Linked DNA regions of Homo sapiens: all the other regions are linked to region 3. Evidence: fine-mapped expression QTL. A gene starts in region 3. Each other region holds a variant in brackets. All regions are shown on one strand. Distances are from middle to middle. Region 1 overlaps POLR1A (RNA polymerase I subunit A). Region 2 overlaps POLR1A (RNA polymerase I subunit A). Region 3 holds the start of POLR1A (RNA polymerase I subunit A).

Evidence for each region. PIP is the estimated chance that this variant, and not a neighbour inherited with it, causes the effect.
Region 1: its variant is the best candidate, but not a certain one, in a credible set for the expression of POLR1A in prefrontal cortex (BrainSeq, PIP 0.70).
Region 2: its variant is the best candidate, but not a certain one, in a credible set for the expression of POLR1A in skeletal muscle (GTEx, PIP 0.69).

Annotation. Positions count from the first base shown.
Region 1 is chr2:86,072,999-86,075,498 of GRCh38, forward strand. It overlaps POLR1A (RNA polymerase I subunit A), which reads right to left. Exons shown (of 34, transcript NM_015425.6): 12 at 2,032-2,262. Among named protein-coding and RNA genes, the nearest start is that of POLR1A, 32 kb to the right of the region's middle. RefSeq lists enhancers at 1,543-2,043, 2,044-2,500. The variant C/T (reference allele first, on the strand shown) is at 1,097.
Region 2 is chr2:86,046,812-86,049,311 of GRCh38, forward strand. POLR1A (RNA polymerase I subunit A) reads right to left here. Exons shown (of 34, transcript NM_015425.6): 17 at 2,349-2,431; 18 at 2,073-2,231; 19 at 354-452. Among named protein-coding and RNA genes, the nearest start is that of POLR1A, 58 kb to the right of the region's middle. The variant G/C (reference allele first, on the strand shown) is at 1,199.
Region 3 is chr2:86,104,774-86,107,273 of GRCh38, forward strand. POLR1A (RNA polymerase I subunit A) reads right to left here and starts at 1,113. Exons shown (of 34, transcript NM_015425.6): 1 at 927-1,113. The coding sequence starts at 1,003. PTCD3 (pentatricopeptide repeat domain 3) reads left to right here and starts at 1,462. Exons shown (of 24, transcript NM_017952.6): 1 at 1,462-1,578. The coding sequence starts at 1,475. RefSeq lists enhancers at 633-722, 923-1,132, 1,513-1,772.

The DNA.
Region 1 (2,500 bases), 32 kb before region 3:
GCCTAGGAGTTGGAAACCATCCTTGGCAACATGGTGAAACCCCATGTCTACAGAAAATACACAAACTAGCCACACCTGTGGTCCCAGCTACTCGGGAGGCTGAGTCAGAAGGATCACCTGAGCCCAGGAGGTGGAGGCTGAAGCAAGCTGTGATTATACCACTGCACTTTAGCCTGGGAGACAGAGCGAGACCTTGTCTCAAAAAAAAATAAAATAAAAAAAAAAAAAATGACAGGTTTTGGTGGGTAGCAGACTACAGTCCTCAGGCTGGCCACCTGCTTCTGTAAATAAAGTTTGATTGGAACACAGCCATGCCTATTTGTTTGTGTACTACCTGTGGCTGCTTTGGTATTAGGTGGCAGAGCTGAGCAGCTACAGCAGAGCCTGCATGGCCCAGGACCACAGAAATATTTACTATCTGACCCCAGAGGAATGAGGGCTTGCTAAGGCCTGAGAGAGCAGCAAGAATTCGCTGCCTTCAGTCCCCTCTTTAGCCCTGAGGCTGGCCCCAGCACCTGGCTCACAGTTGCCTCCTGATGACCCCAAACTCTCCCTGCCCACTTGCCCTGCACATTCCCCTCAAACTTGTTTCTTCTTGGACATTATGTGCTTAAAGTCACTGTCTGTCACTGCTGTTCCCTATGGTGTCTACCACACCCCTCCGCAACAGCAATACATTTATATGCTTACTTCCTAGTGGTTCCCCCACCATGCTGTCAACTCCAGGGTGGCGAGGATCCGTCTGCAGGGACTGCAAAGTGCTAGCATGCAGGGGGCATCAGTACTGCCTCATCCCTCACCCCTTCTCCTAGTCTCTTTCTCATCCTTTCCTATTGTGAGTCTGTTTCACATGTTTGACCTGAGTTAAATGTAAGTGAAGTGAAACACACCTTGCTTCTTTTTGCATTGCTCACACAGTGCCTAGCGAAACACCAGGCACTTAGGAAAGGCAGACCGATTCTACGAACCTGAATACAAACCTTACTTCGTGCACTAGAGAAGAACAAAAGAGGTGACTTGATCTATGTTTGCATGTGCCCTGTCACCAAAGGAGAATACAGTAATACAGGCAGTGTATTACTGCTGCCCCTCAGGA[C/T]GGCGGTGAGAACGAGAGGAAGCAAGAAGGCCTGTGATGAGCAGTGATGGGCACCGCCGCAAGGCCAGGAGCATTTCCTTTTCCTCTCGGTTCCTCCAAAGTTCCTTCAAGGCTGATGCAACTTTGCAGAGGTGAACTCAGTGTTAAAGAAGGGCAGGTCAGCCATGGGTATGGGTGGGCAGAGGGCAAGGAGAGGCCCTCTGTGCAGGTGGGTGAGGAAAATCCAGGCAGTCACCTATTGACTCCGGTAGTCACTTGTGGGTTACATCCAAGTCGAATCCATTTCCCTCCAACAACTGCTGCCACTGTTGCCTAGTTAGGGGTCATCTGCTACTCCCCTCCCAGCAGGAATGGCTATTATGTGACAGAGCCACAGAGCTGTCACCTGCTGATTTCATGCACTCAGCAACATTGTTAATCGATCATGTGCTCCTTCCAGTGGAACCTGATAGAGCCTCAGGATTCCCTACCACAGCACTATGGGCTAGCATTAGCAATTGCCCAAAATGGAAACATTAGTTATAACCTGTTATTTGTTGGTTATCACTGGCACAGAGCACTCCCTTCCTAAGAGTGGCTCTCAAACATCAGCATGCAGAAGAACCCCCTGGAAAGCACGGTAAAGAAAGATTCTGAACTCTATTCTCAGAGATTCAAATTCAGTAGAGGTGGGGGGATGTGCATTGCTCACAAGCTCCAGGGCTGCTGCTGATGCTGGTCTGGGGACTGCCCTTTGAGTAGTCCTGTTTAAGGGCAGCCATTCTTCTGCCCGGAGACTACAAGGTGAATCTAAAAAGCCACCCACGTGTCGGGGAGCTTCCTCCTAGGGATGGGCTCCTGTGTCAGTGCGCACCGGAGCCACACCTGATGGCCACCAATCACCAGAATCCGAACAGGAGCCGGATGGGTCCCTGACCAAAGCTGCCCTTACTCACAATTTTTGTCCCCTGGGGCTTAGGTGCCCCCGTGGCTGGGGTCAGAAGCTGCTTGGCCACGGCCTCTCGCTGGGTCATGTCCACAGCGCTCAGGGCTGTGCGGCTGCCGTCCTCATTGATGACCATGGAGGCTCCTGGGTGCACATTAGGGCCGTTGATGACCGCTTGCCTAAGTTCCTGAACATTCCATGGGGTAACTGGCTGTGGGTAGGTCAGTTTTGTGGCAAACACCTGGAAATGAGGAATGGAGGTAGAAATTCAGGGCAGGGATAAAAAAAGGTCTGATGGACCCCAAATCTGTCTCAACAGGCTGTCTTTTCACCCAAGATGTGGAGGAGCTGTTTGACTTGGCCAAGAAGGTCTTCCAGTGAGCAAAGTAACATCCTGCCTGTCTTCTGCTACTCCCTTAATGGTATAGAGACTAGGCCTCCTTTTCTACCAGTTAGTCTGAGGAGAATAATTTAAGCGC
Region 2 (2,500 bases), 58 kb before region 3:
GAGCAAGACTTCATCTCGAAAAAAAACGAAAGAAAGAAAGAAACAATCATGCAAAATTACGTAAAAATTGTGTGAGTATACATAATTTATCTATATAACGTGAATATATGTAATAGTACAGTTTGTAAATTTGTAATATATATCTACGTTATACATATCCCATCTGCATATTCATAACTACATCTGCCTTTAACATTGGCATGTTAACAGTGGTTAGCTCCTGTAGTGATTTCTACACGCTTTCCTCTTTTTACTTGTCATGTTTTATAGGGAACAAACTGAAACCACCTCCTGCTATCCCCCACCTGCCTTTGCTGACACCTGTAAAGCTGCCAACCCGCCTCTGCACATACCTGCATCGTGTTCACAGTTGAACCTTTGGCTCCCGACTGCACCATCATCTGCAGGCTGTTCTCTGGGAACTGTCTGTGTAGGCCAAAAGGCATGCATGCCTGCAGATTAAATCAGCACAGTGGTCAGTGACTTCACCTTCTTTAAAAATCCCAGAATCAGGATGTAAATCCAGGAAGCAGAAGCAATACAGCCAGAATATTTATTCAGACCTAAGTACCAAATCCCACTCGAGGTAAGAGAAAGCCTCATTCAGCATTAATCCTTCCCTGGAACCCCTGAGAGGTCAAACAGGTGCTCCCTGCCCTGCACTCGCTGGACTTCCTCTGCCAGGATCCCCGAGGTTTCATTCATTGGCCAAAGAGCAGCAAAAAGGGAGAAGGAAAAGGAGAAGTAGAGGGGCTGGCAGATCCAGTTCGTGATTCTAAAAAGAAGCTGGAGAAGAATAAAATTTAAGGTGATGCCCTTGATTCGCCCAGCAGAGCCTGGCCTGGGTCCTCTCCCAGCGTGAATACCAACATCCGCATCATGTCACATTTACGAACATGCCACCCAAGCCCCATGTAGGAAGCTCTGTCTTGGCTCAAGAGCCAGCAGAACCAAGCATGCCCCTTCAGGGGGATCCTGGGGAGATGCTGAGAAGGGGGCTCTGAGTCTGGGGCTTCTAGCCTGTGCCTGGAATTCCACAGACTTGGCCCAACACAGGAGAGGCAGAGCCTGGGTGGGCGGAGGTGGTGGGAAGAGGGCAACTGGAGGGACAAGAAACCATTCTGAGATGCATCTGAAGACAACTTCCCTACTCCTAGCATCCCCAGTCAGCCCTAGAAGCTGAGCTTCCTGGTTCTCA[G/C]GGAGGTGCTAGGAAAGCTCCTGTCAACAAAACCCCTCAAGGATGGAACCTGTCCCCATGAGAAGTCGGTCTTCTCAGCAGCCTAAGGGATGCTAAAAGCCAGGCAAGAGAGCACTACAGACGAACTTTGACTTTTGATGAGTGTTGGCATTGCCTCCTCCTCCCCACTCCTCAGGCTGGGCCCCAGGGCCCAGGAGGCAGGGTGAGGGCCAGGCCAGCTCCTCCAAGCAGCAGGATGGAGAACCCTGGCTCTGGGGCAGAAAGGCAGAGAAAAGCAGGCTGTGGTTTCAGCTCATGCAGAGATTTCCCCTCTCCTTTCTCAACTGCCCAGGAACTGGCTTGGCATTGTGTACTAGTAGCTCCTGAAGCCTCTCTGCAGCCCTGTGAGGTGGTGCCCCTCACAGCCCCACTTCCAGGTGAGGAAACCAAGGCAGGGACTGGTTATCTCACTTGCCCAAGGTCACACAGCAAGTTCAAGGCAGAGCCAGGACTGGAACCTGAGCCTTCACTCCTGGCTCCGCTGCATGAGCAGCCAGGGCGATCCGGGTCCCTCACCCTGCTTATTCACCCCTGGTGGCCCCATTCAGCCCCTTTAATGCAGTCACCCCAAAATAAAAACATTTATAAAGAAAAACAGCACAAAGCATTCTCTCTTGGCACTATTCTGAGGCCTGTATAGACCCTAACTGGGGCAGGGAACAAAGCCCTGGGCCCTTCAAAACAACGAGTTCTACCCATCCCACCTCGCATCTCACCTAGTCAGCTGTTCAACAGCCAAGGTGCTCTGTAGGGCCCAGGTGAGAATCAAAATGTAATTTTTTTAAAAATCAGCATTCATAGTGGTGGGGATAAATGCATGCAATGCTGGGCTAACCTTGTTAATCTCATTGCTGTAATGGTTCACTTCCTCCTTGAACTTCAGATCAATCATGTTAAAATCCCTCTGGTCCTTGCCCAGATGGGCATCCTGCCATTTTCCTCGGACCTCATCATATGATGCGGCTTCTGGCAGGTTTAATGCAGCCCTGACAGCCTAGAATGAGAACAGAAACACAGCGGAGGCTGAGGCCAAACGACGAGAGTGTGGGTTTTGACTCAGCACACACTTCACCCCTCTAGGGCAGGCCACGGCCTCGAAGTCCCTCCTTACCTGGGGCCCGCAGTGGGTGGATTCTTCAATGATACGTTGCCTCTTGACATCTGCCTTTGGCTTCACCAAAATGTCTTCCACGCCTGTGAAGTGAAACAGACAAGCTTGTAGGCGACCTCAGGCCTGATTTCTCCCACCAGACTAAACTCAGT
Region 3 (2,500 bases):
CCATGTTGAGTTTTTGATATGCATTTAAGATCTCTGTGTGAAATTCAATTAAAGATGTACAGACAGCTGAACAAATGGGTCTGAAAATCAGGGAAATAAATTTGCGTTGGGGATTTAAATTTGAGACTATAAATCATGAAAGTGGTGAGATTGTCTAGGGACAATATTTACCATGAAGAAAACATTACTAGAATAGAATCTTGAAGAACATCAACATTTAAGGAGTAAAATGAGGTACAGACCTTGCTCACCAATGTGTCATTAACGCCTAGCTTGGTGCCTGGAAAAAACTGGATGCTCAATAAATGTTTGTGAGGTTATAGATCGATAGAGGAAGAGAGGGAGGTAGAAGTATTTGTCATAAAAATAGGAGAACTTGAAGACAAATAAGGTTCTGGAAGAAAGGAAAGTTTCAAGAGAGTGCATTGGAGAATGTCAAATGCTACCTTGATCAAAATGAAGACTAAAGAGAGTTCCCTTGATTTAACAACCAGACCGAGAATATAGCAGGGTCCTAGCAAAGAGAAGTTAACGCCTGAACTGACACTTGAAGGACAATCATTTTACAAACAAGAGGAAACTTACTACGTGCCTAATTAACCATGTCAGGTACACTATGGTTAATTCCACAAATGCTTGTTAGTTAACGAGGAGACTGGCAGATGATAACGCTGCAGACCAGGACCCTCCCCACCCTTATATTCCCCTACCTCAGCGCAAACTCTTTCCCCCAGCACCACCGGCCTCTTATCCAGGCAGTCCACGCCGGCCCAGGAACGTTCCCAGAACTACGGCTCCCAGCAGGACAAGCGCCAGACAAGCCTGGACTCAAGAGGATAGACTGGGCAAAAGCGCTTCTGGGAATCGTAGTTTAGGGCGCCGACCTCAAGATCCAGGCTGGGCACGCTACCCGACCAACTCCTTACTTGAGCTCTTCAGCCGAATACATCCCGAAGGAAATGCCCTGCAGCCGCCGCCAGGGCATGTTCTTGGAGATCAACATCCTCCAGGTCCGTTTTGAATTCCGACACCCCAAGAGACGTTCCACTCACCACCTGACTATTCTTAATTCAACCTCAAGCCCGGAGTCACCACGCGATTCAACGTGCGCTTGCGCGCGGAAGCGGTCGCAGGAACGACATTTACGTGGATGAGATCACTTCTACATGGGGGGGGAACAAATAGTTGTACGACTCTCTGCTCGCTCTTTTGTTTTGAAAACAATCAAAGATATATAAGACATCAAAATAATCATTTAGGAAAATTCCTCCGAGGCAAATCGGGTGTATAGAGCTTTTAGCTTCCGTGACGAAGTCTTTCAAACCATGAGCTTGCAACCTCCCATTTTATGATTGCTTTCGTCTTCTTCCGCTTCAGCCAATAGCGGAGCTGTTCCCTGCTCCCCGCCCACTGCGCCCCACCTTCCTGAAGGTCGAGGCACGCTTTCCCAACATGCTCTGCAGAGAAATCAAAGATGGCGGTTGTATCTGCTGTTCGCTGGCTGGGCCTCCGCAGCAGGCTTGGCCAGCCGCTGACGGGTCGGCGGGCGGGTTTGTGTGAACAGGCACGCAGCTGCAGGTAAGAGACGCTTAGGGTATCCGCGAAGAAGACCGCGGAGTCACCTTAGTCCTATGTTTCCCAGCTGGCTGTGGAAGTAGGCACGATGAAATGGTTTGCTCATGCGCGCCCTTAACGGTCGCGTGCCCTTAAGACCAGGTACGCGGAGGTGGCCCTTTGAAATAGGATTCGCAACGCATTTATTCATTAGAGAAATACTTATTGGTTGCTTGCAATATTCTGTAGTTAACACCATCCGCAAAGCTAGGACCCTGCTCTCATGAAGCTTGCGTTCCAGTGAGTGTGGCTATTAGCAACACTACCCCAAATTAAAAATTATCCGCCATTACTCATTTTAACCCAATCAGGAGGAGCGAGGAGAACGTACAAGATCTTCCCAAATAAAAGGCAGTCTCTGGTCGCCACCGTGGGGACTTTGGCTAAAGAAGTTATCAGGTTTTCGTAAAAGCAGAAAAGTCTAAAAGATCTGACTATGCCCTTTTGATCTGTGATAGTTATAGCTTGGAACATGTATGACCTATCTGTGTAATTTTTTTTTCACTCAGTACAAACAGTGGCATTGTGGGAATATGAGAGGCAGTAATTTGTAGTGAAAACTTGCTAAAAGCCTAATTTTAGGTTTAGTGTTTGCCATTCACTTAATTGGATGATAATAGACAGATTTCCTCATCTGCAGACTAGAGTTGGTAATAACCATCCGAAAAGTTTGTGAGGTATAAGTGGGGTATGTAATTTACAATATGTTTTTATATGTACTCTCCCTTAGTTCCCCTCAAGAAAGAGAAACCACTCCATCTGATACTGCAGAAACCTTTGTGCTGCCATTCAATGCCAGTCCTCCGTTTCCTGGTAGCCATCGTTAGCATTTTTCTACTCATTTTCTTTGCCTGAAGCAGAATCTCTTCCTCAGCATCCGTTCTCA